Linked DNA regions of Homo sapiens: regions 2, 3, 4 and 5 are each linked to region 1. The links come from fine-mapping of genetic effects on gene expression. A gene starts in region 1. Each other region holds a variant in brackets. All regions are shown on one strand. Distances are from middle to middle.

Evidence for each region.
Region 2: its variant is fine-mapped to the expression of PLOD1 in whole blood (INTERVAL, PIP 0.94).
Region 3: its variant is fine-mapped to the expression of PLOD1 in monocytes (Schmiedel 2018, PIP 0.95).
Region 4: its variant is fine-mapped to the expression of PLOD1 in whole blood (TOPMed, PIP above 0.99).
Region 5: its variant is fine-mapped to the expression of PLOD1 in whole blood (INTERVAL, PIP 0.91).

The regions. Positions count from the first base shown.
Region 1 is chr1:11,932,680-11,937,781 of GRCh38, reverse strand. PLOD1 (procollagen-lysine,2-oxoglutarate 5-dioxygenase 1) reads right to left here and starts at 3,065. Exons shown (of 19, transcript NM_000302.4): 1 at 2,927-3,065. The coding sequence starts at 3,002. RefSeq lists a silencer at 2,787-3,256 and enhancers at 2,433-3,356, 3,477-3,526, 3,357-4,282.
Region 2 is chr1:11,988,432-11,993,533 of GRCh38, reverse strand. MFN2 (mitofusin 2) reads right to left here. Exons shown (of 19, transcript NM_014874.4): 3 at 4,191-4,369; 4 at 844-979. The coding sequence starts at 4,365. Among named protein-coding and RNA genes, the nearest start is that of MFN2, 11 kb to the right of the region's middle. The variant A/G (reference allele first, on the strand shown) is at 2,957.
Region 3 is chr1:11,903,293-11,908,394 of GRCh38, reverse strand. It overlaps RNU5E-1 (RNA, U5E small nuclear 1), which reads right to left and starts at 243; the gene lies at 123-243. RefSeq lists silencers at 1-103, 128-177 and enhancers at 1-115, 348-457. The variant AG/G (reference allele first, on the strand shown) is at 3,041.
Region 4 is chr1:11,955,211-11,960,312 of GRCh38, reverse strand. PLOD1 (procollagen-lysine,2-oxoglutarate 5-dioxygenase 1) reads right to left here. Exons shown (of 19, transcript NM_000302.4): 7 at 3,299-3,396; 8 at 2,370-2,471; 9 at 1,666-1,797. Among named protein-coding and RNA genes, the nearest start is that of MFN2, 23 kb to the left of the region's middle. The variant A/G (reference allele first, on the strand shown) is at 2,080.
Region 5 is chr1:11,841,700-11,846,801 of GRCh38, reverse strand. CLCN6 (chloride voltage-gated channel 6) reads right to left here. Exons shown (of 23, transcript NM_001286.5): 23 at 3,672-5,102. It overlaps NPPA (natriuretic peptide A), which reads left to right. Exons shown (of 3, transcript NM_006172.4): 3 at 788-1,093. The coding sequence ends at 793. It also overlaps NPPA-AS1. Among named protein-coding and RNA genes, the nearest start is that of NPPA, 3.5 kb to the left of the region's middle. The variant A/G (reference allele first, on the strand shown) is at 2,783.

The DNA.
Region 1 (5,102 bases):
CCTGGGTTACCTCAGTAGCACACTGATCCTGTCCTCCGCCCATAGCAGCACCCTCTGTGAAGGCTTCCTTGGATCTGCTCTGCCCTCCTCCTGTCACTTGCTGGGGATCAGGGTGCCTAACGCCCTGTCATCAGTCTGGTCCCTCTTCAATTCAACTCACCGGGCTTCATCATGGGCAGCTGCGGTTTCTCTCCTGGGATGGTCTGGGATGCAGGCACCCCATGTCAGCAGAAGCAGGGGGATCAAAGGCCCAGAAAACTAGGCCACAACAGGGCTCCTGGCCAGTGAGGGGACCCAGGCCGAGAGCCCTTTGCACAGCCCGGTGGTCAGCGTTTCCATCACTGGACTTTCTGAGCTGTCTTACTGCCCTGCTGTAAGCCAGCAGCCCTGGGACTGGGAGAGAAAATGCCCTTTGCCGAGGGCCTTTCATGGGCCAGGCATTGAGCTGAACTCTCCCCAACTTCATCCCCTGGAATTCTTGTTAGAGCTCCAGGCGTGAGGTAGTATCACCGGGTCTTGCAGGCTAGAACACCAAGCCTCACAGAGAGCAAGCACCGCCGGCTTTACCACTGGGAGACGTGGGGCCTTGGGCACAACCTGGTCCGAGGGAGGTACTCAAGAAATGGCAGTTCCTGGCCGGGCGCGGTGGCTCACGCCTGTAATCCCGGTACTTTGGGAGGCCGAGGTAGGCGGATCACCTGAGATCAAGAGTTTGAAACCAGCCTGACCAACATGGTGAAACCCCGTCTCTACTAAAAATACAAACATTAGCTGAGCGTTGTGGCATCCGCCTGTAATCCCAGCCACTAGGGAGATTGAGGCAGGAGAATCGCTTGAACCTGGGAGGCGGAGGTTGCAGTGAGCTGAGATCGCACCATTGGACTCCAGCCTGGGCAACGGGAGTGAAACTCTGCCTCAAAAAAAAAAAAAGAAAGAAAAGAAAAGAAATGGTGGTTCCTGGCTGGGTGCAGTGGCTCCCACCTGTAATCCCAGCACTTTGGGAGGCCGAGGCAGGAGGATCACTTGAGGTCAGGAGTTTGAAACCAGCCTGGCCAACATGGCGAAACCTCGTCTCTTCTAAAGATACAAAAATTAGCTGGGCGTGGTGGTGCAGGCCTGTAATCCCAGCTACTTGGGAGGCTGACGCACGAGAATTGCTTGAACCCAGGAGACAGAGGTTGCAGTGAGCCAAGGTCATGCTACTGCACTCCAGCCTGGGGGACACAGTGAAACACTGTCTCAAAAAAAAATTAAATAAATAAAATAAAATAAATGGTGGTTCCCATTCCTGACCCAAAGAACCCGGGATCCTTCTGGTGATACAGTTTCAGGTTCTCCAGGAGGGTAAGCTGAAGGAGGAGAATGCCATGGAAAGTACCGCCACTTCTGCTTGGCTTTGCTGGGACTGTCCGCAGTCTATGCCCTTCTCGGGACAGCCCTGGAGATGGCCCATGCCAGGGAGGGCTGGGGAGGAGGGAAGCACCCACTCAGGACAGTGGGGCACACACTGCAATCCAATCTGCCTTGAGGAAGTAGAAAGAGCGCTAGACTGGAGCCCAGCTGACCTCGGACCAACCACCTCTGTCTGGACCACCCTGGACAGTCACTTCACCTGTCTGGGCCTCAGTTTCCTCAAGTATAAACTGCAGAGAGGGCCAGGTGTGGTGGCTCACGCCTGTAATCCCAACACTTTGGGAGACCAAGGTGGGCTGATCACCTGAGGTCAAGAGTTCAAGACCAGCCTGGCCAACATGGTGAAACCCCATCTCCACCAAAAATACAAAAATTAGCTGGGCATGGTGGCACATGTCTGTGATCCCACCTACCTGGGAGGCTGAGGTACAGGAGTCGCTTGAACCGGCCGGGCGCGATGGCTCACGCCTGTAATCCAAACATTTTGGGAGGCTGAGGCCAGCGGATCAAGAGGTCAGAAGTTCAAGACCAGCCTGGCCAGCATGGTGAAACCCCATCTCAACTAAAAATACAAAAATTAGCTAGGCATGGTGGCACGTGCCTGTAATCCCAGCTACTTGGGAGGCCGAGGCAGGAGAAACACTTGAACCTGGGAGGTGGAGGTTGCAGTGAGCTGAGATTGTGCCACTGCATTCCAGCCTGGGCGACAGAGCGAGACTCCATCTCAAAAAAAAAAAAAAGAATTGCTTTTACCTGGGAGGCAGAGGTTGCAGTAAGCCGAGATCGCATACTGCGTTCCAGCCTGGGCGACAGAGCAAGACTCTGTCTCAAAAATAAATAAATAACTAAATAAATAATACATTAAGTAAAATAAAAAAAATAAACTGCAGAGAGGAAGACCACCCTGGCAGGGGCTAAGCAGACCACAGGGGACATGGATGAAAGCACAAACTTATCCACAAAGTGAGCCACACCTTCTACCCCCATTCCTCCCCTGTCCCCCTCAAGACCCCTCATTCCCATGGTCATGAGGCCTCCTGGCTCTGGAACCAGACACCTGGGTGGGTGGGGTAAATCCTGGTTCCAAGGCCCACAAGTTGTATGATCTTGGGCAAGTGAATGAACTCTGGAGCCTCAGTTTGCCCAGCTGGAAAACGGGGATAATAGAAGGAAACACTTACCAGGGTAGCAATCATGCCTAACTGATGCCTGGCCCATAGTGAGCACTGGGCAGAATAGCCATTGTCGGTTATTATTATGAAAACTATTATTATTTGAGCCTTTCTGTGCTGAATGGGACTCAGCTGTCACCCTTTCCTTCCCGAAGCAGGAACCGCAGCCCCAAGAGGGGAAGTGATTTGTTCAAGTCACCAGCGATTAAGTGGACAAGGAGCCGGAACCCAGACTCCCTCTCCAGCCCAGGCCTCCCATTCAGGTCGTTCCCAGGGAGGCAGCCCGACACCAGCCCTCCCGCCCGGATCCGCGCTCCCGCCCCCGGCCTTCGCTCCCTCACCCTCCGGCTTGGCGTCGCCCTTCGCTTCGGCCAGCAGCAGCCAGCCCAGCAGGGCCAGTAGCAGCAGGGGCCGCATGGCCGAGGTATGGGGGACGATCGGCCGACCCGGCGGCGCTCGCAGGGCTGGAAACTTCGCGACGGGGCCGCAGGTCCCGCTGCCACGCACTGGGCCCGCCCCGGGGGCGGCACCACCCCGCCCCTCCACGCCCTCCCCCGCGCCTGCCTAGTGGGGAAGGGTTTTTCTGCAGATATGCCCAAGTCCGGGCCTCTCCTTATTAGGGCAGCTCCCTCCGCCTCTCTGTGCAGCTCCCGGGGCTTCCGTCAGGCCCTGCCGTCTCCCTCCCTTCTCTGGGGGGTTCACTCCGACCAGAAAGAGGGCGGTGAGAGGAGAGAGAGGCCACGATTTCTAGACCCCAGGTTCTGGGCCAAGGCTCCATGGCATCGATAGCCACGAGCCCCTGTTTGCTCGCCTGAAAAGTGGGGCTTATGATAGCGTCTGTTCATTGGGTCTTGCACGGGTTAATGGCGTTACCTGTAGCGCACTTAGAGCAGCCCCAGGTCAAGCCCCAAGGAAGTCAGTTTTCATGATTTCATTAGTCCTTCCCAAAACCCAAGGGGTGAGGGTGGGCACGGATGCGTTCAGAGACACGGACACCCCTACGTGGCCCACCCAGGCACTGGAAATGCAGGAAGCCCGTCTCCACTCTCCCCAAAAGGCAATCACTTGATCTCCCTTTGTGTCCCTGGGAGGCAAACCTCTGAGCCAAGGAAAGTCTTGCTTCTGAGGTTTTTTTGTTTTTTGTTTTTTTTTTTTCATTTTTTTGAGACAAGGTTGCTTTCAGTTGCCCAGGCTGGAGTGCAGTGGCGTGATCACCGCTTGCTGCAGCCTCGACCTCCCGGGCTCAAGCGATCCTCCCATCTCAGCCTCCCAAGTAGGTGGGATCACAGGCCTGAGCCACCATCCCTGGCTAATTTTTCTACCTTTTTTTTGAGACAGAGTTTCACTCTTGTTGCCCAGGCTGGAGTGCAACGGCGAGATCTGGGGTCACGGCAACCTCCGCCTCCCGGGTTCAAGCAATTCTCCTGCCTCAGCCTCCCGAGTAGCTGGGATTACAGGCATGTGCCACCATGCCCAGCTAATTTTGTATTTTTAGTAGAGGTGGGGTTTCTCCATGTTGGTCAGGCTGGTCTTGAACTCCCACCCTCAGATGATCCACCCGCCTTGGCCTCCCAAAGTGCTGGGATTACAGGCTGAGCCACCACACCCTAGAGAGATTAATTGTTAAATGAGTAAACGAATCGATGAAAGTTTTTAGGGCCTCTTCACAGATACCCAAAGCCCAACAAACAACTCAACGGTCTCTAGAGTAAGGGCTCCTGGACCAGATGTCAGACAGGGGCAGCCACCTCTGAACAAAAATCCTTCCTTCCTTGGAAGAAACCTCAGACAGAGGCCGGGCACGGTGGCTCACACCTGTAATCCCAGCACTTTGGGAGGCTGAGGCGAGCGGATCACAAGGTCAGGAGTTCAAGACCAGCTTGACCAACATGGTGAAACTCTGTCTCTACTAAAATACAAAAATTAGCCAGGCGTGGTGGCGCGCGCCTGTAATCCCAGCTACTCAGGAGGCTGAGGCAGTAGAATCACTTGAACCCAGGAGACTGAGTTTGCAGTGAGCCAAGATTGAACCACTGCACTCCAGCCTAGGCGACAGAGCGAAACTCTGTCTCAAAAAAAAAAAAAAAGAAAAAAAAGACCTTAGACAGGGACCCAGGAGCCTTCTCCCAGCTGATTAGGCTCCAGAGGAGTGGGTGGCAGGTGTAACCCTAGGCTGGCAGGGGGTTCCCTGCAGGGGGCAAAGGGGTGGGAGAGAAGGAATGTCACGAATGTCAATGGACGACAAAGAGCAGGCTATGCGTCTGTGCTGGGAAAAGATATTAATAAATCAACAGCATTCAGATGAGCTGGGTGCGGTGGTTCATGCCTGTAATCCCAGTACTTTGGGAGGCCAAGACAGCCAGATTGCTTGAGCCCAGGAATTCAAGACCAGCCTGGGCAACATGGTGAAACCCCTTCTTTACTAAAAAAACAAAAATTAGCTGGGCATGGTGGCATGTGCCTGTAGTCCCAGCTATTCAGGAGGCTGACTGGGGAGGATCACTTGAGCCCGGGAGG
Region 2 (5,102 bases), 56 kb before region 1:
TCGATCTCCTGACCTCGTGATCCACCTGCCTCGGCCTCCCAAAGTGCTGGGATTACAGGTGTGAGCCACCATGCCCGGCATATTTTTAGATTCTTTGCTTTTGTGATTTTTTTTTGATGCTTGCCTAACATGCATGCACTGTAAAAATAGTTAACAGGGAAATAACTTGAGATGATGGCTAGCTTTGTTTAATGTCTTACGAAATTTTCATGAACAATACAAGCACAATTGTTAAGAACACGTGTATTAAATTCATGTAAGTGGAATAAAAGTTTTATGAATGGAGAAAAAAAAACAAATACTGTATGATTCCACTTACGTGAGACATCTAGAATAGTCAAATTCATAGGGACAGAAAGTAGAATGGTGGTGGCCAGGGCAAGGGACATGTGGGACAGGGAGTTATTGTTTAATGGCTATAATACAAGCTTCAGTTCTGCAAGATGAAAAAGCTCTTGAGACTGGTTGCAAATATACCTACTAGTGAATTGTATGCTTAAAATGGTTAAGGTGGTAAATTTTATATTATATGCCTTTAACCTTAATTAGAAAATAAAAAAAAAAAAGTCAGGCTTGATGGCATGCACCTGCAGTCCCAGCTGCTCAGGAGGCTCAGGTGGGAGGATCACCTGAGCCCAGGGAGGTCGAGGCTGTAATGAGCTTCCAGCCTGGGTGACAGAGAACCCTGTCTCAAAAATCAAATAAATAAATAAAATATAAATTAAGAGGAAAGCAATGAATTCTGAAGCATGTCCCTGCCTGGAACGTTCTGTGACCTTGCACAAAGTGCCTCCCTCCCTCCTAGCCAGGAAGAAAGAAAGGGTGGGTGCCTCAAGGACTTACCGGCCAAAAAAAGCCACTTTCATGTGCCTCCGAGCCAGCACCTCACTGATGCCTCTCACTTTGGATAGGTAACCTTTGACGTCCAGAACCTGTTCTTCTGTGGTAACGGGGTCCAGTTCTGCATTCCTGTACGTGTCTGGAGGTGGGGATTGAAAATGGGTCACCACGTGGTCAGAGGAGTTCCACAGTCCCAAGTCTGGAAGGGCCAGAGCGCCGGCCCTGCTTACCCTAAACGAGTCCACCTCTGGCACCCTGCAGCCGACAGGCTGAGCTCCAGATCCTCTATGGTGGCCCCACGGTGTGGTGGTTAAGAAGATGGCTCAGGAGCAACACTGCCTGGTTCTGAAGCTGGTTCTTACCACTTTCTAGCTCTGTGGCCTCAAGCAAAAGAACCTTTCTGGGTCTTAGTTTCCTTAAGCACAAAACGGAGATAACTACATTATCTACTTCATGAGAACATCGTGAGGATCAAACGAATTGAAACACAAATGCTGTGAATGGCGGCTGGTAGAAGATGAATACTTAAATGTTAACTGCCTTCCTTGTTTATTTTTTCTTAACAAATATTTACGAAGTTCTTACCACATGCCAGGCACTGTTCCTTTCACTTTTCAAATTCATTCTCTCCTTTGGTCCTCTTTATTAACATGGCTCCGGAGTTAGTAAAAGGCAGAGCTATGATTTGAATTAGGCAGCCTGGCTCTGGAGTCCAGGCTCTTAACCACTCTATGTCACTTCTTTTTTTTTTTTTTTTTTTTTTTTTTTTTGAGACGGAGTCTCGCTCTGTCGCCCAGGCTGGAGTGCAGTGGCGGGATCTGGGCTCACTGCAAGCTCCGCCTCCCGGGTTCACGCCATTCTCCTGCCTCAGCCTCCCAAGTAGCTGGGACTACAGGCGCCCGCCACTACGCCCGGCTAATTTTTTGTATTTTTAGTAGAGACAGGGTTTCACCGTTTTAGCCGGGATGGTCTCGATCTCCTGACCTCGTGATCCGCCCGCCTCGGCCTCCCAAAGTGCTGGGATCACAGGCGTGAGCCACCGCGCCCGGCCTCTATGTCACTTCTTGAGGCCCTCCCTGCCCTGGCCCTGTTGGCCTCTTGCCACCCGCTGCCTCACGGTCTCCCTCACCATATCCCCAAACTCACCAGCTTCCTCGGCCCTCTGGCTCCATTCCCTGCTGCCCAAACCCCCTCCCCACTCTCTGAAGAACTGACACACTACACTGCCTTGGGGCAGCGTGGCTCATTCTCACTTGGCCTCCGGTCTAGCTTAGACAGCACTGCCCCCAGGAAGCCTTCTCTGACCACCCCTCTAACCTGAGTCAGGACCCCGGACCCCTTCTCTGTGTGCCCCAGCACCCTGCACTTCTCCCATCTCAGCTCTCACCTCACCATAAGGTAACTGTACAGCTCACCTGTCTGTGTCATCTGCCTCATGAGGGCCACACTATCTGACCCCAGCACCCAGCAGGTGCACAAATGTTTGCTACGTGAGCAGACCTTTGGATCACTGCACTGCTTTTTCCCAGTGCCCTTAACAGGCAGATGGCCAACAAATTACTCCATACAGGAGCAACTGAGTGAGATCCCACCACTGTCCTGTCTAGAACTCGCACCAGACAGGTGCTTCAGCTGGCTGGAACACAGACGGGTGTTTAGCCCCTCTGCACACTCCTGGGAACTATGAGGCTGACAGGCCCCAGCCCTGAGAACACTCCGAAAGCATCTGAAGCATGACAAGGGCCTGCCCAGTGAATTTCCCCCACAGCCAGCGCCATGAAAGGAAATGACCAAGTCAACAACACCCCCATCTCCCCTCCCGCTATGTCCACCGGTCACCTCTGCCCCAGATGCATCAATATTCCTCCCTTATATGGGCACCTGGGCATGGCCTTTGGAATGTCCCTCGGAGGAAGCTGGCTCTCAAGCATGTGACTACACTTAAAAGCGAGAGCCAGCAGGCCAACAAGCTCTTGTTACCTGCCCGTTAGAAACAGTGCCCAGGCAGGAACCATTCTTTCCCTGACCCAGCACAGCTCAGGATCACTCCAGCTCTTTCCCTTCCATTTAAACAACAGGGGAGGCCTCATATTTTCACACACAGAGAAATCAAAGC[A/G]TGCATCACATAAACACCTGCATTACGCATGTGTTTGTCCACCACATCATCTGAGTAGGTGACTCAGAGCTTCCAAGAGGGTTAGTCTGGGCTCCCAGAGGGGAGCGGCCTGATCTACCCCATCTCTGCATGCCCAGCACCTGGCACACGGCTGGCACACCATAGCCACTGATAAACAGGCAATGAGTTGGGATTATTTCAACTACCAATCATACTACTTTAAAATTCAGATTTGTTTTAGTTCAACAAGTATTTAGGAAACACCTTCTGTGGCATCAAGCGCCACGCAAAGGGCAGGGCACAGATGAGGGCATGAAGTTGGACAGTCTCTTTCTTCAAAGGGAGCCTCGTGTAGCAGCCTGGCATGTAAAACAACGAGAAGCCAAGCTGCTCTATTTGAAAGCAGAATGGAAAGAAGGTGGCCCCCCTGAGCCAGGGGCCAACCCCCGAAGCACCACCACTGAACTTCTAGGGTTCTGCAGACTAGAATCTGAAACCACTGTTCACACCTGAGCCCCACTTTCACAAGTGAGGAAACCAAGGGCAGATAAGACTCAGTTACTGGGTCTCCACAGACAATCTCAGGACCTGGCGCCAAAGTGTCCTTCTAAAGAGGGAGCCTGAGGAAGCCAGTGCTGGAGTTGACACTCAGACGAGCGGGGCCCTGGGAACCAGTCCTTCTCTGCTGATAGACAAGGAACTAGAGGTTGGGCTCAAATTAGTAACTAGTAGAAAAGGCATAGGTGACGTGAGTTTCCTATAGTTCTGTCACCAATCTAAAAATATCAAAGAAAGGGCGCCCTGGTCAGGGATCACTGACACCCAAACAGTGCCTGGTATTAATGGCAGCCAGAACTAGGCAAAGGAAAACACGTGGGCTCCGGAGTTGGAGACACCTGGGTAAAACCCTGATCTATTACTTACAAGGTATCGGACAACTCTCAAACCTCAATTTGCTTGCCTTGTAGATGGGGATAAGATTCACCTATCTTTCATGATTAAATGAAACAAAACATGTGGACTTCTTAAAGTAATTACTAAATGGCAGTTCCCTTGTCTTCCTGGCCTCATCTCCCCAGACTCCAATTCCACATGATTTCAAGAGCAGAGCATTTCTAAGGCTATCTGGTTATGACTTCCCTGGGAGCAGAGATATACCTCCCCACCCGCAAATCCCACTAGCTAAATATCTAAACAGGTAAGAGCGGGCCTGGCTGAGCCGGTGCCCCCTTACCTTCAAGGAAGGTGGCGCTCTCCTGGATGTAGGCCCCCAGCTGCTCAAAAATGCCATTGATCTTCTTCTTGGCAGTGACAAAGTGCTTAAGTGGGGATGCATTCACCTCAGCCATGTGTCTCTTATTTTTCTTGACTGTGACGATAGAGTTGCATCGAGAGAAGAGCAGGGACATTGCGCTGCAAGAGAAGCTAACGTGAGCGAACCCAGCAACACCTACCTCGGGACATCCTGCTAGGGAGATGGCGGAATGCTTTGGGGAGAATCAAGAATATGGGGATCTCAGGTCACTGCAACCTCCAGGACTAGAACAAAGGACGGTGAGATAAGAACAGTGTCTCAGGCTGGGCGCGGTGGCTCACCCCTGTAATCTCAGAACTTTGGGAGGTTGAGGCAGGTGGATCACCTGAGGTCAGGAGTTCAAGACCAGCCTGGCCAACATGGTGAAACCCCCGTCTCTACTAAAAATACAGTAATTAGCCAGACCCAATGGCACACACCTGTAATCCCAGCTACTTGGGAGGCTGAGACAGGAGAATCACTTGAACCTGGGAGATGGAGGCTGCAATGAACCAAGATCATGCCATTGTACTCCAGCCTGGGTGACAGGGCGAGATTTTGTCTCAAAAAATAAAACAAAATTAGCATGACACAGTGGCATGCATCTGCAGTCCTAGCTACTTGGGAGTCTGAGGTGGGAGGGTCACTTGAGCCCAGGAGTTTCGGCTGCAGTGACCTATGATCAGTCCACTGCACTCTAGCCTGGGAGACAGAGCAAGACCACATAAAAACACTATTGGTTAGGGGCCAGGTTCAGTGGCTCATACCTATAATCCCAGCACTTTGAGAGGCCAAGGCAGGCAGATCACTTGAACTTTGGAGTTCGAGACAAGCCTAGGCAATGTAGGACCC
Region 3 (5,102 bases), 29 kb after region 1:
ATCACATACCTTAACAAAGCGAAAAGCTGAAAAACCGTAACTCGCATTTGTTCTATAATACACTTTACATAGCTCCACACGCGATTTAACGGAATCGCATCTGTTTTTAAAACACTTAAAATAAGCCCTGCTAAGAAACGCAAGGCCTCAAAAAATTGGTTTCAGACTCACACTCGTTTCTCTCCACGGAAATCTTTAGTAAAAGGCGAAAGATTTATACGATTTGAAGAGAAACCAGAGTATAACATCAGTCGTCGACACTACAGTTCTCAGGTAACGGCTACTCCTAAACGGGTAATGGTAACTTTCCTTCGGCCCAAAAGAGCTATTGACTTCAGCCTTTTTCTTCAGACAATTCTGGGACAGCAATCTCGGTTCCGAGAAAGATATGTTGAAGGAAAAAGGGGAAATAATTTTAAAGACGAACATTATTTAGTGCGCAATGCATTGTGGGTATGCAAATAAAGTCTCACCAATCACGCTCCAGTTTCAGGAAATACCTTAAATGGTTCATGCGTTTTAGCGCTGCGCCTGAGGCCACCACCGCGGGGCAGAGCAGAGTCTGGTCCCAGAAGAAAAAGGCTGACTTTACCTGCTTTACTTACAGTGGGCGAGCTATTAGATCGGTGCAAAAGTAATTGCGGTTTTTGCAATTTTTTTTTTTTTTTAATTGCACAATTAGCCTAATAAGTAAAGAATTTTTTTGAACTTAAAAAAAAAAGTAAAAAAAAAATTATCTTGGCTGGACTCCGTGGCTCACCCTTGTAATCCCAGCACTTTGGGTGGCTGAGGCAGGCTGATCGCCTGAACTAGGGGTTCAAGACCAGCCTGGGCAACATAACGAGAGCGTGTCTCCAAAAAAAAATTCTTACACTTCTAGCCACTCCAGACCTACTGCAGGCCTGGGGATTGGGCCCAGCCCCCTGAGTCTGAACTCATCCTCCGTGTGATTCTGATGGAGGCCACATTGAGAACCTCTGTTGGCAACTGTTGTGCCTGAAATATGGAGAGTGAGGAGTTTGGGAGACAGATTACTGGCTGAGCAGGGGAAGGCCTGGGAAAGGCTGTGAAATGAGGAGAGAAAAGGCCAAGGAAGGTCCCTGGGGGATGGTGGCATAAAAGGAGGGGACAGTGCAGGAGCCTATGAAAGAGATTAGAGAAATTGAGGGAGGCAGGAGGAAAACCTGGACTGGGAGCCTCACAGAAACCGAGGGCAGAGAGGAGGTTTCCTGGCCGGGCGCGGTGGCTCACGCCTGTAATCCCAACACTTTGGGAGAGAGGAAGGAAACAGTAGGTGAGGAGGGGCAGGAGATGGGGAGGGGGCGGTAGCTGGCTCCTGGTTGCAGATGGGAAGGAGAAGCGGTGCAGGTGCCTCCCCGCAGTGATCGTGGTCCATGGAGCCTGGGCCCCCCCACTACCCCTGTTCTCTCACTCCCCTGCAGCCCCTCCTTTGCTGGCCCCTCTTTCCTTCCGTCTTCTCACCTGGGAAGATCCCAGGGCCATCTTTCCAGCCTCTGCCCTGTAGCAGCTGAACTGCTGGAAAAATTCCACAGCAGGGGAACCTCCCATACAGGCCTCCACTTCACCTGTTTCTCTGATTGGCTCCATTTCCCACCTCAAGATGTCCTTTTTAGGCCGAGTGCGGTGGCTCACGCCTGTAATCCCAGCACTTTGGGAGGTGGAGGCAGGCGGATCACCTGAGGTCAGGAGTTCGAGACCAGCCTGGCCAACATGGGGAAACCCCGTCTCTACTAAAAATACAAAAATTATCTTGGTGTGTCGACGCGTGCCTGTAATCCCAGCTACTTGGGAGGCTGAGGCACGAGAACCACTTGAACCCAGGAGGCGGAGGTTGCAGTGAGCCGAGATCGCACCATTGCACTCAAGCCTGGGTGAAAGAGCAAAACTCCGTCTCAAAAAACAAACAAACACACAAACACCCCTTTTAATCCTTCTCTCCCTTCAGCTTCCCCCTCTGCAACTCACCGTGTCAGCCCACGACATCCCAGGGGCTTCCTTGAGAGGCCAGACGCCCTCATCTTCCCAGCCCGCCTGCAACCGCATCTGGCTCATCTTCTGCCTCCTCCCATGAACGGCCCTCCTCCTGGGCTTTGAACCCCAACTCCACAAAGATGGCTCCCCTCCCATGCAATCCCCCAGCAGCACCCTCCGTGTCCCTCCCGCTGTGGTCTGAATGTCGTGGCCACTCACACATCCACAGGCTGAAATGTAATCTCCAAGGTGATGGTATTGATAAGTGGGGCCTCTGGAAGGTGATTGGGTCATGGATGGGATCAGTGTCCTTATAAAAGGGTTTGAGGGAGCGAGTTTGTCCCTTTCACCCTCCCATCAAGTGGGGACACAGGGAAGGCGCCGTCTATGAGGAACAGGCCTTCACTAGACAGCAAATTTGCTGATGCCTTGATGTTGGACTTCCCAGCCTCCAGAACTGTGAGCAATAAATAACTTTCTGCTGTTTATAAATTATCCAGTTTAAGGTATTTTGTCATAGCACCTGAACTAGGACACCCCCCCTACTGGCTCATCTTCTAGACGGATGAGTAGGCTTCCTTACCTCCTAACCTGAGAGAGAGAGAGAGAGAGGAGTGAAGGAGGAAGTGGGGAAGGAAGAAAGACTTCCTAAACCTCATCACCATCAGCCACAACAAAGCAAAGCACTTTTACTTTGTATTTCTATTTTAGAAAAAAATCTGATGGAAATCTCTTTAGTAAAAAGAAACTTGGGGCCGGGCGCAGTGGCTCAGGCCTGTAATCCCAGCACTTTGGGAGGCCAAGGCGGGCGGATCCCCTGAGATCAGGAGTTCGAGACCAGCCTGGCCAACATGGTGAAACCCCGTCTCTACTAAAAACACAAAAATTAGCTGGGCATGGTAGGCCCCTATAGTCCCAGTTACTTGGGAGGCTGAGGCAAGAGAATCGCTTGAACCCAGGAGGCAGAGGTTGCAATGAGCCAAGATCGTGCCACTGCACTCCAGCCTGGGGGACAGAGCAAGACTCCGTCTCAAAAAAAAAAAAAAAA[AG/G]ATTTCCAAACAGGGACTCAAACAGATGACTCTACATGAGCATTAATAGCAGCGTTGTTCATAACAGCCCAAAGATGACAACAATCCCAGTGTCTATCCGCTGATGAGTGGATAAACAAAATGTGGTTTACCCATACAATGGAATACTATTCAGCCATAAAAAGGAGAGAAATTCTGGTACACACTACATTGTAGATGAAATTTGAGGATGCATGCTACATGAAAGAAGCCAGCCACAAAAAGGCATAGATTGTGTGACTGTACTTAGGTAAAATATCTAGAAGAGGGGATAATAGGAGTTATTGGGTAACGTATAGAGTTTCTGTTTCGGGTGATGAAAAATTTTGGAAATGGATGGCAGTGATGGTATTACAACATTGTGAATGTTTTGAATTTATTTTTAATTTTTAGAGATGAGGTCTTGCTCTGTTGCCCAGTTAATTTTTAATTTTTAATTTTTTTTTTTATTTTTTGTAGAAACTAGGTCTCATTATATTGGCCAGGCTTAATTTGTTTATTTTTATTTTTTGTGAGCTGTAATCTTGCTATGTTGCTCAGGCTGGTCTCAAACTTTTGGCCTCAAGTGATCCTCCTGTCTCAGCCGCCCAAAGTGTTGGGATTACAGGTGTGAACCACCATGCCTGGCCCATTTCCCCTGATCAGGGAAAATGCGTTGTTATGTGTGATATTTGGTGTGAGTTTTTTTTTTTGTTTTTTTTTTTTTGGCGGAGTCTCGCTCTGTTGCCAGGCTGGAGTGCAGTGACGTGGTCTCAGCTCACTGCAACCTCCAACTCCCTGGTTCAAGTGATTCTCTTGTCTCAGCCTCCCAAGTAGTTGGGATTACAGGCACACGCCACCATGCTCAGCTAATTTTTGTGTTTTTAGTAGAGACAAGGTTTCACCATGTTGGCCACGATGGTCTCGATCTCCTGACATCATGATCTGCCTGCTTCAGCCTCCCAAAGTGCTGGGACTACAGGCATGAGTCACCGCGTCTGGCCTGGTGTAAGATTTTAACATACAGCCTGTATTAATTATGTTAGGGAAATTTCCTTCTATCATCAGGTTTCTCTGTGCTGAGTTTTTTTATCAAATGCTCTTCAGAATCTATTGAGATAGTTGTATAAATTTTCTCCTTTGAATTCAGCAATATGGTGAATTACATTGCTAGATTTTTTTTTTTTTTTTTGAGACAGAGTCTCACTCTGTTGCCCAGGCTGGAGTGCAGTGGCACGATCTCAGCTCACCGTAACCTCCGCCTCCAGGTTCAAGCGTTTCGTGTGCCTCAGCCTCCTGAGTAGCTGGGATTACAGGTGTGCACCACCATGCCTGGCTAGTTTTTCTATTTTTAGTAGAAATGGGGTTTTGTCCTGTTGGCCAGGCTGGTTGCAAACTCCTGACCTCAGGTGACCCACCCACCTTGGCCTTCCAAAGTGCTGGGATTACAGGTGTGAACCACTGCTCCTGGGCCATTGCTAGATTTTTGGATGTTAATTATTTGCATTCCTGAGATAAGGCCCATTTAAGTCATAATACATTTTTCTTTATAATTTGATTTTTCCTTTTTCTTTTTTTTGAGACAGAGTCTTGTTCCGTCACCAAGGCTGGAGTGCAGTGGCACAATCTCAGCTCACGGCAGCCTCAACCTCCCAGGCTCAAGCAATCCTTCCACCTCAGCCCCCTAAGTAGCTGGGACTACAGGCATGCAGCACCACACCCGGCTAAGATTTTTCCTTTTTGAAAATGAAAAATGCAAGACTCAAAGATCAAAACTATGTAAAAACATATATTCAGAGAAGTCCCACTCCTGTCCCTAGCCCCTTCGCCCAGTTTCCACTCATCCCCATTTTCAATAGTTTCTTTATTTAAAGAAAATTTGTTTACATTTTGTTATTTGTAATAGAGATGGGGTCTCACTATGTTGCCCAGGCTGGTCTCTAACTCCTGGGCTTAAGTGATCCTCCCAACTCCCAAAGTGCTGGGATTTCAGGTGTGAGCCACTGCACCCAACACATTTTCAATAGTTTCTAGTTTAAATTTTCTGTGTGTGTGTGTGTGTGT
Region 4 (5,102 bases), 23 kb before region 1:
GTGCCAGGTGATCCTCAACTTCGCTTTGAAAAACAACAGTCCAGGCCAGGCACAGTGGCTCACGCCTGTATTCGCAGCACTTTGGGAGGCCGAGGCGGGTAGATCACCAGGTCAGGAGTTCAAGACTAGCCTGGCCAAGATGGTGAAACCACGTCTCTACTAAAAATACAAAAATTAGCCGGGCATGGTGGCAGGCACTTGTAATTCCAGGTACTCGGGAGGAGGCTGAGGCAGAGAACTGCTTGAACCCGGGAGGCGGAGGTTGCAGAGGCAGAGAACTGCTTGAACTTGGGAGGCGGAGGTTGCAGTGAGCCAAGATCGCACCATTGCACTCTAGCCTGGGAGACACAGCAAGACTCCATCTCAAAAAAAAAAAAAAAAGGAAAAACAACCATCCAGCTGGGTGCGGTGGCTCATGGCTGTAATCGCAGCACTTTGGCAGGCGGAGGCAGGCAGATCACGAGGTCAGGAGATCGAGACCATCCTGGCCAACATAGTGAAACCCTATCTCTACTAAAATACAAAAAATTAGCCAGGCACGGTGGCAGGCGCCTGTAATCCCAGCTACTCGGGAGGCTGAGGCAGGAGAATGGCTTGAACCTGGGAGGCAGAGGTTGCACTGAGCTGAGATCACGCCATTGCACTCCAGCCTGGGCAACAGAGCAAGACTCCGTCTCAAAAAAAAAAAAAAAAATACAAAAAATTAGCCAGTTGTGATGGCGCATGCCTGTAGTCTCAGTTACTTGGGAGGCTGAGGCAGGAGAATCGCTTGAACCCAAGAGGCAGAGGTTGCAGTGAGCCGAGATCGTGCCACTGCACTCCAGCCTGGGTGACACAGCGAGACTCTGTCTCAAAAAAAAAAAAAAAGAAAAGAAAACCAATTTGACTGCCACCAGGTACAATTAGGAAGGTAGGAAGGATTAACAGTGACAGGGATGGAAGTGAAGATGACAACAGTTAGAAGCAACTAGATGCGTCCTGTGCACCAGGCACCTTTTACGAACTTCGCATGTCAGCTTGCTTAGCCCTTGCAGCAATTCTGTGTGATTGCACAATTATTATCCCTATTTTATTTTATTTATTTATTTATTTATTTTTATTTTTTTTGAGACGGAGTTTTGCTCTTGTTGTCCAGGCTGGAGTGCAATGGCGCAATCTCGGCTCACTGCAACCTCTGCCTCCCAGGTTCAAGCGATTCTCCTGCCTCAGCCTCCTGAGTAGCTGGGATTACAGGCATCTGCCACCACACCCAGCTTAATTTTGTATTTTTAGTAGAGGCAGGGTTTCACCATGTTGGTCAGGCTAGTCTCGAACTCCCGACCTCAGATAATCTGCCCACCTGGGCCTCCCAAAGTGCTGGGATTACAGGCATGAGCCACCGCGCCCGACTTTTATGCCTATTTTATAGATGAGAAACTAAAGCACAGAGAGGTTGAGTAATGTGCCCAAGGTCACACAGCCAATAAAATAGCGGCGCTGGGATTCAAACTCACCCAGTCTGACTCCAAAGTTAACTCAGTGATTTGGGGACACAGTCCACTGGTGATTGTCATTTGGCCCAGATAAGCTAGATTCGGTGAGACCCTCAGAGGTCTCGGGCTACCTTGTGAAGCTGGGCCCTGGATCTAAGCCACATGACGACCCCACAGAGCGCCTGTTACTCACGTGGTTGTGGATGAAAAGTCGCATGTGTTTCTGGGGGTAGTGGAGCCGCAGGAGCCGCTGGAAGAACAGGGACACAAACGGCGTGGGCTGTTCGATGAACACGCCGACCAGGACCGTGGGCAGAGCTTCATCCTGCACCAGGGAGGGCGGCACAAGAGTCCAGCAGTGTCCAGTCACAGCACTGCCACTCCACCCCAGGGTGGCCCAAGGGAGTCAGAGCCAGAATCAGAAGCATGTAGACTTCCCAAGAAAGGTGCCCGGGCCGGGGAACTCCAGTCAGGGGGTACGGGGGGGCAGGGAAGCAGCAGGAGGGTGCCCCGGGGAGAGAGCAGCAGGAGCCCAGGCCTGGAACAAGGACTCGGTTGAGGGCCTGCTGTCAGGAGATCGTGGCTGGCGTGGTGTTCGAGGTGAGTC[A/G]TAAATGAGGATGAGGTTCATGGGATGGGGAGGGGGCTGCAGGAGAGCCTGAAGGACCAGGCAGAAGAAACCAGAACCTGGACATCTCGGGGGAAGCTAGAGACATGCAATCTGAGAGGGCTTCCAGGAGGAGGCACTTGGGTGGCAACCGGGATAGAACCCCAGGCAGGGAGGTGACCCCTTCACTTTCCACCAAAGACAATGGAGTCTATTCCAGAATCACCCATCTCGCCATCTCAGGGGACTGAGCCCCCCGTGTCCCTCAGGCACAGGCCTGGGCGCAGCCTCACCCCAATGCCCTTGAGGCTGCGCAAGCCTTCGTCACACACGGTGCAGCCTGTTTCGAAGGTCCAGAAGCGCGGGATGTAGTTGCCCAGGTAGTTCAACTGCAGCTGTCGGGGAGACGTGGGGTCACAGAGAAGCCAGCCAGCCCCACCTGCCATAGCCCTGACTCACATCTCCCTGGGCCCCCAGTGGGTCAGCACCATCCAGCCCCCTCCCACTCCCTAAGAGGGTCTTGGAGATAATGCTCCATCCCCAGGAGATCACCAAGCCGCTCTGAGAGAGGGCAGGGGAGGGCTTGGCACTCTAGTGCTTCTCCCGAGAGCTTGTAAAATGCAGATTCCTGGGTCCCACCCCGCTCAGAGATTCCATCTGAACAGATCCTGGGTGAAATCAGCAAATTTGCATTTTAAACACATCACATCCTCCTTCCTCTCCCTCATTCCAGCGGTGAAGGACCACACTCAAATATGCTATGAGCTATGAGCCAGTTCCCCAGGGACCAGTGAGGTCCATTCTGTCCCTGGCCGCATCTGCACCCAGTCCCTTCTGTCACCATGAATGCAGGACATCCGTCCTGCTTATGACTATGTCTTACTGTCTGGTGCAAACATGAAATAAAGGTTTACTGAGTGAATAAGTGACTCTGCCCTGGGGTGACAGTGCAGATGGCTCTGGTAGCCCAGCCTAGGCCTGGAAGGGGATGGCAGCCTCCTACGTGTCCTGTGACCAGCAAGAACAGACAGAGTACCACTGACCACCACAGCAGGAAAAGAAGGCATCACGCTGAGCTCAGATGTGAGGACAGAGGCAGTGAGTTCATAGCAGGCCCCAGGAAGGTGGCCCTGGCCCCAGGGAGACACTGTGGGGTCACAGTGAGAATGAAATTAGGGCTCTGGCCCCCTCCCACACTCCCCAGGGGCTGGGGACCCCCTACCTTGGTTGGCCCGTTGCCATGGATCAGGACCGGGAGGGTGTCATAGGCCAGGTTCCTCGCTCTCACATGGCCCATTTCAAACTTGAGCACGACCTCATCTGGGGGTCAGAAAGCACAGTCCCACCCAGCATCAGACCCAGAGGTCAGGCTCAGGGTCCAACCAGCTGGGCTCAAATCCCAGCTGTGCAGTGAGTAGATTATGTCCTCGGGCAAGTCACTTCTCTCTAAGCCTCAGTTTCCTCATCTATAAAATAGGAATAATCCCTTCTTCATGGGGTGAGGGGGAGGATTTGTGTTGAACAAGCGTGGGGCACCAAGCCTGGCCCATCATGAGCACAGAATCCACGGCAACCCCTGTACTTGTTGTGGTTACTTACAGTCAGAAGCAGGGGCTGGGAGAAGAACGAAGACCTGGAACATCCCAGCTCCAGGCACCTCAGAGAAGCCCCAAGAGAAAGGGTCTGGGACGCGCCTTCTCTGAGTAGGCAGAGCAGCACTGAGAAAATGCCAGAGCCACATGCAGGGGAGGCCTGGGCATGATCAGGACAGATCTTGTCCCAGTGGAGGGAGCCCCTGCAGCAGGGTTCCAATACTCATGTTTTTTGTGTGTGTTTTTGTTTTTTGTTTTTTAGAAATGGAGTCTCATTCTATTGCCCAGTGTGGAGTGTAGTGGCATGATCTCGGCTCACTGCAACCTCCGCCTCCCAGGTTCAAGTGATTTTCCTGCCTCAGCCTCCTGAGTAGCTGGGATTACAGGCACATGCCACCACACCCAGCTAATTTTTGTATTTTTAGTAGAGACGGGGTTTCACCATGTTGGTCAGGCTGGTCTTGAACTCATGACCTCTGGTGATCCACCCGCCTTGGCCTCCCAAAGTGCTGGGATTACAGTGCCTGGCCCCCAATACCCATGTTTGACCCTATTAGTCTGCACATAGGAAAATGGGTATTTCAGCTGGGCACGCTGGCGCACACCTGTAATCCCAGCACTTTGGGAGGCCAAGGTGGGAGGATCACTTGAGCCCAGGAGTTTGAGACAAGCCTGCGCAACATAGTGAGACCCTGTCTCTATTTTAAAAATTAAAATAGGGCTGGGCACGATGGCTCACGTCTGTAATCTCAGCACTTTGGGAGGCCAAGGCAGGTGGATCACCTGAGGTCAGGAGTTCGAGACCAGCCTGGCCAACATGGTGAAACCCCATCTCTACTAAAAAAATACAAAAATTAGCCGGGCATGGTGGTGTGCGCCTGTAATCCCAGCTACTTGGGAGGCTGAGGCAGGAGAATCACTTGAACCTGGGAGGCGGAGGTTGCAGTGAGTCGAGAATTCGCCACTGCATTCCAGCCTGGGCGATGGAGCAAGACTCCATCTTAAAAAAGAAGAAAAAAAAAGGAAAACAGATAGCTCCTGACCTGCGTGGATCTGAACTCAGTGCTTCTTAACCCCCAGAAACCACAGGCAAAGGGCATTTTCTGCGTTTCTCTGGGAGCAGAGCCGTAGCTTTCATCAGATTCTCAAAAGGGCCCATTTATCCACAAAATCAGCAATCAGTGGATCCGGTTCACTTCCCTTTTGTAAAGATAAGAAAACTGAGTCCCCTGTGGGGAGGAGGTGTGACTTGCCTGAGGTCACTCAGGAAGACAGGAAGACCTGCGGCAAAGCAATGTCATCACCAGCCACAGACATGAGGCCAGGCCCAGGGATGTTTGCGGCATCAAGGGTCAAGTAGCCTTTTGCTTCCCAAGCTGCCTGTCCCACCAGCTGAGTTCCTGCCCCTAGCCCAGGACTCCTTCACCTGGAAGG
Region 5 (5,102 bases), 91 kb after region 1:
TCTACTAAAAATACAAAAATTAGCTGGGTGTGGTGGCGGGCACCTGTACTCTCAGCTACTTGGGAGGCTGAGGCAGGAGAATCACTTGAACCCAGGAGGCAGAGGTTGCAGTGAGCAGAGATCACGCCACTGCAGTCCAGCCTAGGTGATAGAGCGAGACTGTCTCAAAAAAAAAAAAAAAAGGCCAGGCACGGTGGCTCACGCCTGTAATCCCAGCGCTTTGGGAGGCCAAGGCGGGTGGATCACGAGGTCAGGAGATGGAGACCATCCTGGCTAACACGGTGAAACCCCGTCTCTACTAAAAATACAAAAAATTAGCCAGGCGTGGTGGCAGGCGCCTGTAAGTCCTAGCTACTCCGGAGGCTGAGGCAGGAGAATGGCGTGAACCCGGGAGGCGGAGCTTGCAGTGAGCAGAGATGGCACCACTGCACTCCAGCCTGGGCGACAGAGCAAGACTCCGTCTCAAAAAAAAAAAAAAAAAAAGCAACTGCCACTAGCACTGGGAAATTAAAATATTCATAGAGCCAAGTTATCTTTGCATGGCTGATTAGCAGTTCATATTCCTCCCCAGAATTGCAAGATCCTGAAGGGCTTAAGTGAAATTTACTCTGATGAGTAACTTGCTTATCAATTCATGAAGCTCAGAGGGTCATCAGGCTGGGGTGGGGGCCGGTGGGAAGCAGGTGGTCAGTAATCAAGTTCAGAGGATGGGCACACTCATACATGAAGCTGACTTTTCCAGGACAGCCAGGTCACCAAGCCAGATATGTCTGTGTTCTCTTTGCAGTACTGAAGATAACAGCCAGGGAGGACAAGCAGGGCTGGGCCTAGGGACAGACTGCAAGAGGCTCCTGTCCCCTGGGGTCTCTGCTGCATTTGTGTCATCTTGTTGCCATGGAGTTGTGATCATCCCATCTAAGCTGCAGCTTCCTGTCAACACTTCTCACATCTTATGCTAACTGTAGATAAAGTGGTTTGATGGTGACTTCCTCGCCTCTCCCACCCCATGCATTAAATTTTAAGGTAGAACCTCACCTGTTACTGAAAGTGGTTTGAAAGTGAATAAACTTCAGCACCATGGACAGAAGACAAATGCCTGCGTTGGTGTGCTTTCTTTCTTCTTGGGAAGAGAATTCAGGCCGATATTCCTTGTCGTTTTACTCTTTGTCAGAGGAAAGAATGCTGAGTTTTTCTTCTTCCTTTCATTTCACCCTCCTTTTTTGGTAGGTGGTTGGGGAGGCCTCAAATTCCACTCCTAGTGGGGTTTTTGTTGTTTTTAGGGGGGAACATTCAGAAAATGAGAGTATTAATTAGATTTTCTCTGGTACATTTCGAGAGAGTTAGGTTCTACAGCTAAGGTAATGGTACTTTTAGTTTTGAAAAGAGTAGGCAGAGTGTTGAATTTAAAAGCTGAGCAGGCCGGGTGTGGTGGCTCACTCCTGTAATCCCAGCATTTTGGGAGGCCAAGGTGGGCAAATCACTTGAGCCCAGGAGTTCAAGACCAGCCTGAGCAATAGAGTGAGACCCCATCTCTACAAAAAATTTAAAAATTAGCCAGGCATGATGATGTGCACCTGTAGTTCCAGCTATTCAGGAGGCCGAAGTGGGAGGATGGCTTGAGCCTGGGAGGTGGAGGCTGCAGTGAGCTGGTATTGTGCCACTGCATTCCAGCCTGGGTGACAGAATGAGACTTGTCTCAAAAAAATAAAAACTGAGCAAAGTGAAGAAAGGTTTGCCATGCAGACAAACTACAAGTTCATGTGCCTTTTGTGTACTAACAAGTATTTGGAAAACAGACATAGTCTTTGCCTAATCCGGGTCTGAAGGGCCTGGGCTTGTATTTTACTAAGAGCTGCTGGAGAAGATGCCGGCTTTTTGTATCTGCTCCTGAAGAGGGTATTTGCTCTGAGCACAAAACACCAGGCAATAAGTTCACCTTAAACAGAGTAAACTGTTTTCCCACCTGTTACCCCCATGGATCCCAACCTCATCAGATTCTATGACACTCCAACACCCCACACCCACACATGCCACTGTGCCTTTATTTCTGCTGTTCCTTCCACCTGGGGTGTCCTTCCTCTGGTCCTCCCGAGGACATTGTACTGATTTCTTAAGGCTCATATGAACACTACTTCTTTCCTGGTACCTCATGCCTAGTAACAATGAGTCCCTTCGTAGGCAGTGTTGCACATGTAACTGTTATAATAGCACACAACACGAGTTGCCTATGTGCAATTGCTTGTGTCTACGTCCCTAGACTGCAAGCTCTTTGAGGGCAAATGCCCCTTCAGCACTCTCAGAGTTGATGCCCCATAAATGTTGGTCAAATTGCCTTGGTCTTGTCCAGAAATTGGGAAAAGAGGAAATGAAGTAGTAACTTGCTCCTTGCGGAGGAAAGGGGGAGGCTCCCAGTGAACTAATGGCAGGGGGTTGAGGTGGGGGGAGAGCCTCACCTAACCACCTCCAGTCAAAATCTTCTCTACCTGGACTTTAAATACCAGGAAAACCAGGGGGTAGAGAATGACAAGGATGAAAGTAAGAGCGACAGGAGACAGCACTGGCCCAAACCTGGCTCCTGAGGTCTGGGATGGTGTTGCGGGTTGCTAGGAGGGGAAGTAGCCCATTCTCAAGGTGTCACCGTAACACAGGTAACACAGGGAGTTCTCATTGAATGAAACTGATTGAAAAATGACAAAAACACAAGGCAGAAAATGCCCCTGGGACTTACAGAACACTTGGGGATGGATGCAGGAGCTGAACTGGCTGCGACCACTGATGGAAC[A/G]GCCACTTCTGTCACTGATGGAATGATGATTTGAAGCAGATCAGAGACAGAGGCCGCTCTTCTTGCAAAACCAAAAGCAAGCGAACAAAAAGCAATGGCCGATGGCAACAACAGAAGCTGGCCACGGGTCTTCACCTCTCCAGACCCAGCAGCAGTTTCACTTCTTCTGGTTGGACATCGGGGCAATCTGTGTGTGGGGCAACTTCCTAAACACCAGGAAGAAACAGAATGGATTCCCCATCCGCTGCTCCTCCAGGACGCGGCTGCTAGCAGGAGGAGATGAATTCTAGAGGAGAGGATCAGGAAGAGTGTTCATCTGAAGGGAGAAACAGACAACGGTGACCTCTGCTAAGATCCACAGGATGAAATCTGTTCTTATTAAGGTCACTGTCTAATACAGAGAAGTGGACCCGCAAGAATGAAGAGCCCCACTGCCCAGCTGCATAGGGAGAGCTCTGAGACTCTAAAACTACGTCCTAGTGTAATTTCCACACATCAGAAAGAGGGGGAGTAAAATAAAAAGCAAGTATCCCTTGAAAGAAAGAGCAGCAGGGCCGGGCGTGGTGGCTCACGCCTGTAATCCCAGCACTTTGGGAGGCCGAGGCGGGTAGGATCACCAGGTCAGGAGATTGAGACCATCCTGGCTAACATGGTGAAACCCCATCTCTACCAAAAATACAAAAAATTAGCCAGGCATGGTGGTGGGCGCCTGTAGTCCCAGCCACTCGGGAGGCTGAGGCAGGAGAATGGCGTGAACCTGGGAGGCGGAGCTTGCAGTGAGCTGAGATGGCACCACTGCACTCCAGCCTGGGTGACAGCGAGACTCTGTCTCAAAAAAAGAAAGAAAGAAAGAAAGCAGCATGGAGACAAAAGGCTAAAGGAGACAGAGGAGACAGAAGACATTTTATTCTCACATGTTAGGGTTACAATGAGAACTCCCAAGTTCCAAAGGTTCAAATAAAAATAGCATTTTACAAATTAAAAAAAATACAATTTATATACACAGTGGAATTAGCTAACATCATACAAACAAACAGTGCAAACAGAAAAAAGGAAGCTGCGACTGCGGCAATGGCCAAGGTCCGCAGAGCTGTGGTGCAATACTGCACATCAATACTGCAGGGCTGGCGAGGCCACCTTGGGCCTCTCGAAAGGCTTTCCTGTCACCCAGGGTCATGTCAGTGCATAATTCTGCATCACAAATGCCATACAGTGGACTGGGTCCTGAAAGTGTCCCTTCCAGCTGGGAACTGTTAAGTTAATCAAGGTCAGGAGCAAATCATCCCTCAGCACAAGGTCCCAAAGCCAGGGCCGGGGGCCCATTGGCCCCACTCCCTGATCACCTCGCCTAGGGGCCATGGAACACCAAGCTGGAGATGAAACACAAAACACCACTTCTTACCACCCGTAGGCTCCCCATCCACAGATCTGCTTTACTGAGGCGACTGATCACTGGGTGATGGGGCTGCTAATGGGTGAGATGCTGAAAAGGCTGGTTTCTAATGGACAGAAATGGAAGGAGCGAGGGTCACAGTTGATTTGTCATGAGTGGAGAAGTTGCTGTCTTTGGGCTTATCTGGAAAGCGCAGATGCAGAGAGAGGAGAAAAGGAAACCACGTGCCTTTGCATGGGGCCTGGGTTTGGGGCCTCCTTGGCAGCCGTCCAGTCAGTTTAGGGGAGGGAGGTATTTGCATTCTACTGTCTATCTCTGGGCTAAACTGATGGGAACAAAATATCTGGTGACTTAAACACAACAGGATGTGCACGAGGGATGAATTCCAATAACATTCACCGGGGCAGCCTCAGGGCAGGCGGCTGCTGATCCAGCCCTCGAGAGGCCGGGGTCCTCCTGCAGGGCGTTAGCTCTGCCAGCTCCAGGAAGGGGCGGGGAGAGGGGACAAAGTGTCTGTGACAGGTGATCACACCATTCTCCTGACTTGGACAATTGGCTTCCTTCTTAATAAAAGGAAGAAATAACGTGATCAAGCTCTGAACACTGCCATAAAACACAGCAGCAGCTGGCCAAATAGTAACATTTAAATAAGAATTGCCTTTTTGGTCCTTGTGATGTCCTGCGCTATTTCCTGGGAGTATTATCCCCATTTCATAAGTCAGGTGCATTCTGGGAAGCAGAAACATTTAGAAGTCAAAGCAATTTTGGTCAGGGAGATAAGAAAATGGGGAAAATGGAGGGGCCACAATCAGCTAGAAAAGACCTTGAAGCAGCCCCATCTCTGGAGTGGAATTATTCCCTAGAGTGTGCTGAGCGCAAGATCTGGACCAGCAGAGCCAGGACTGATGCTCACCCCAGGGTGAAAGG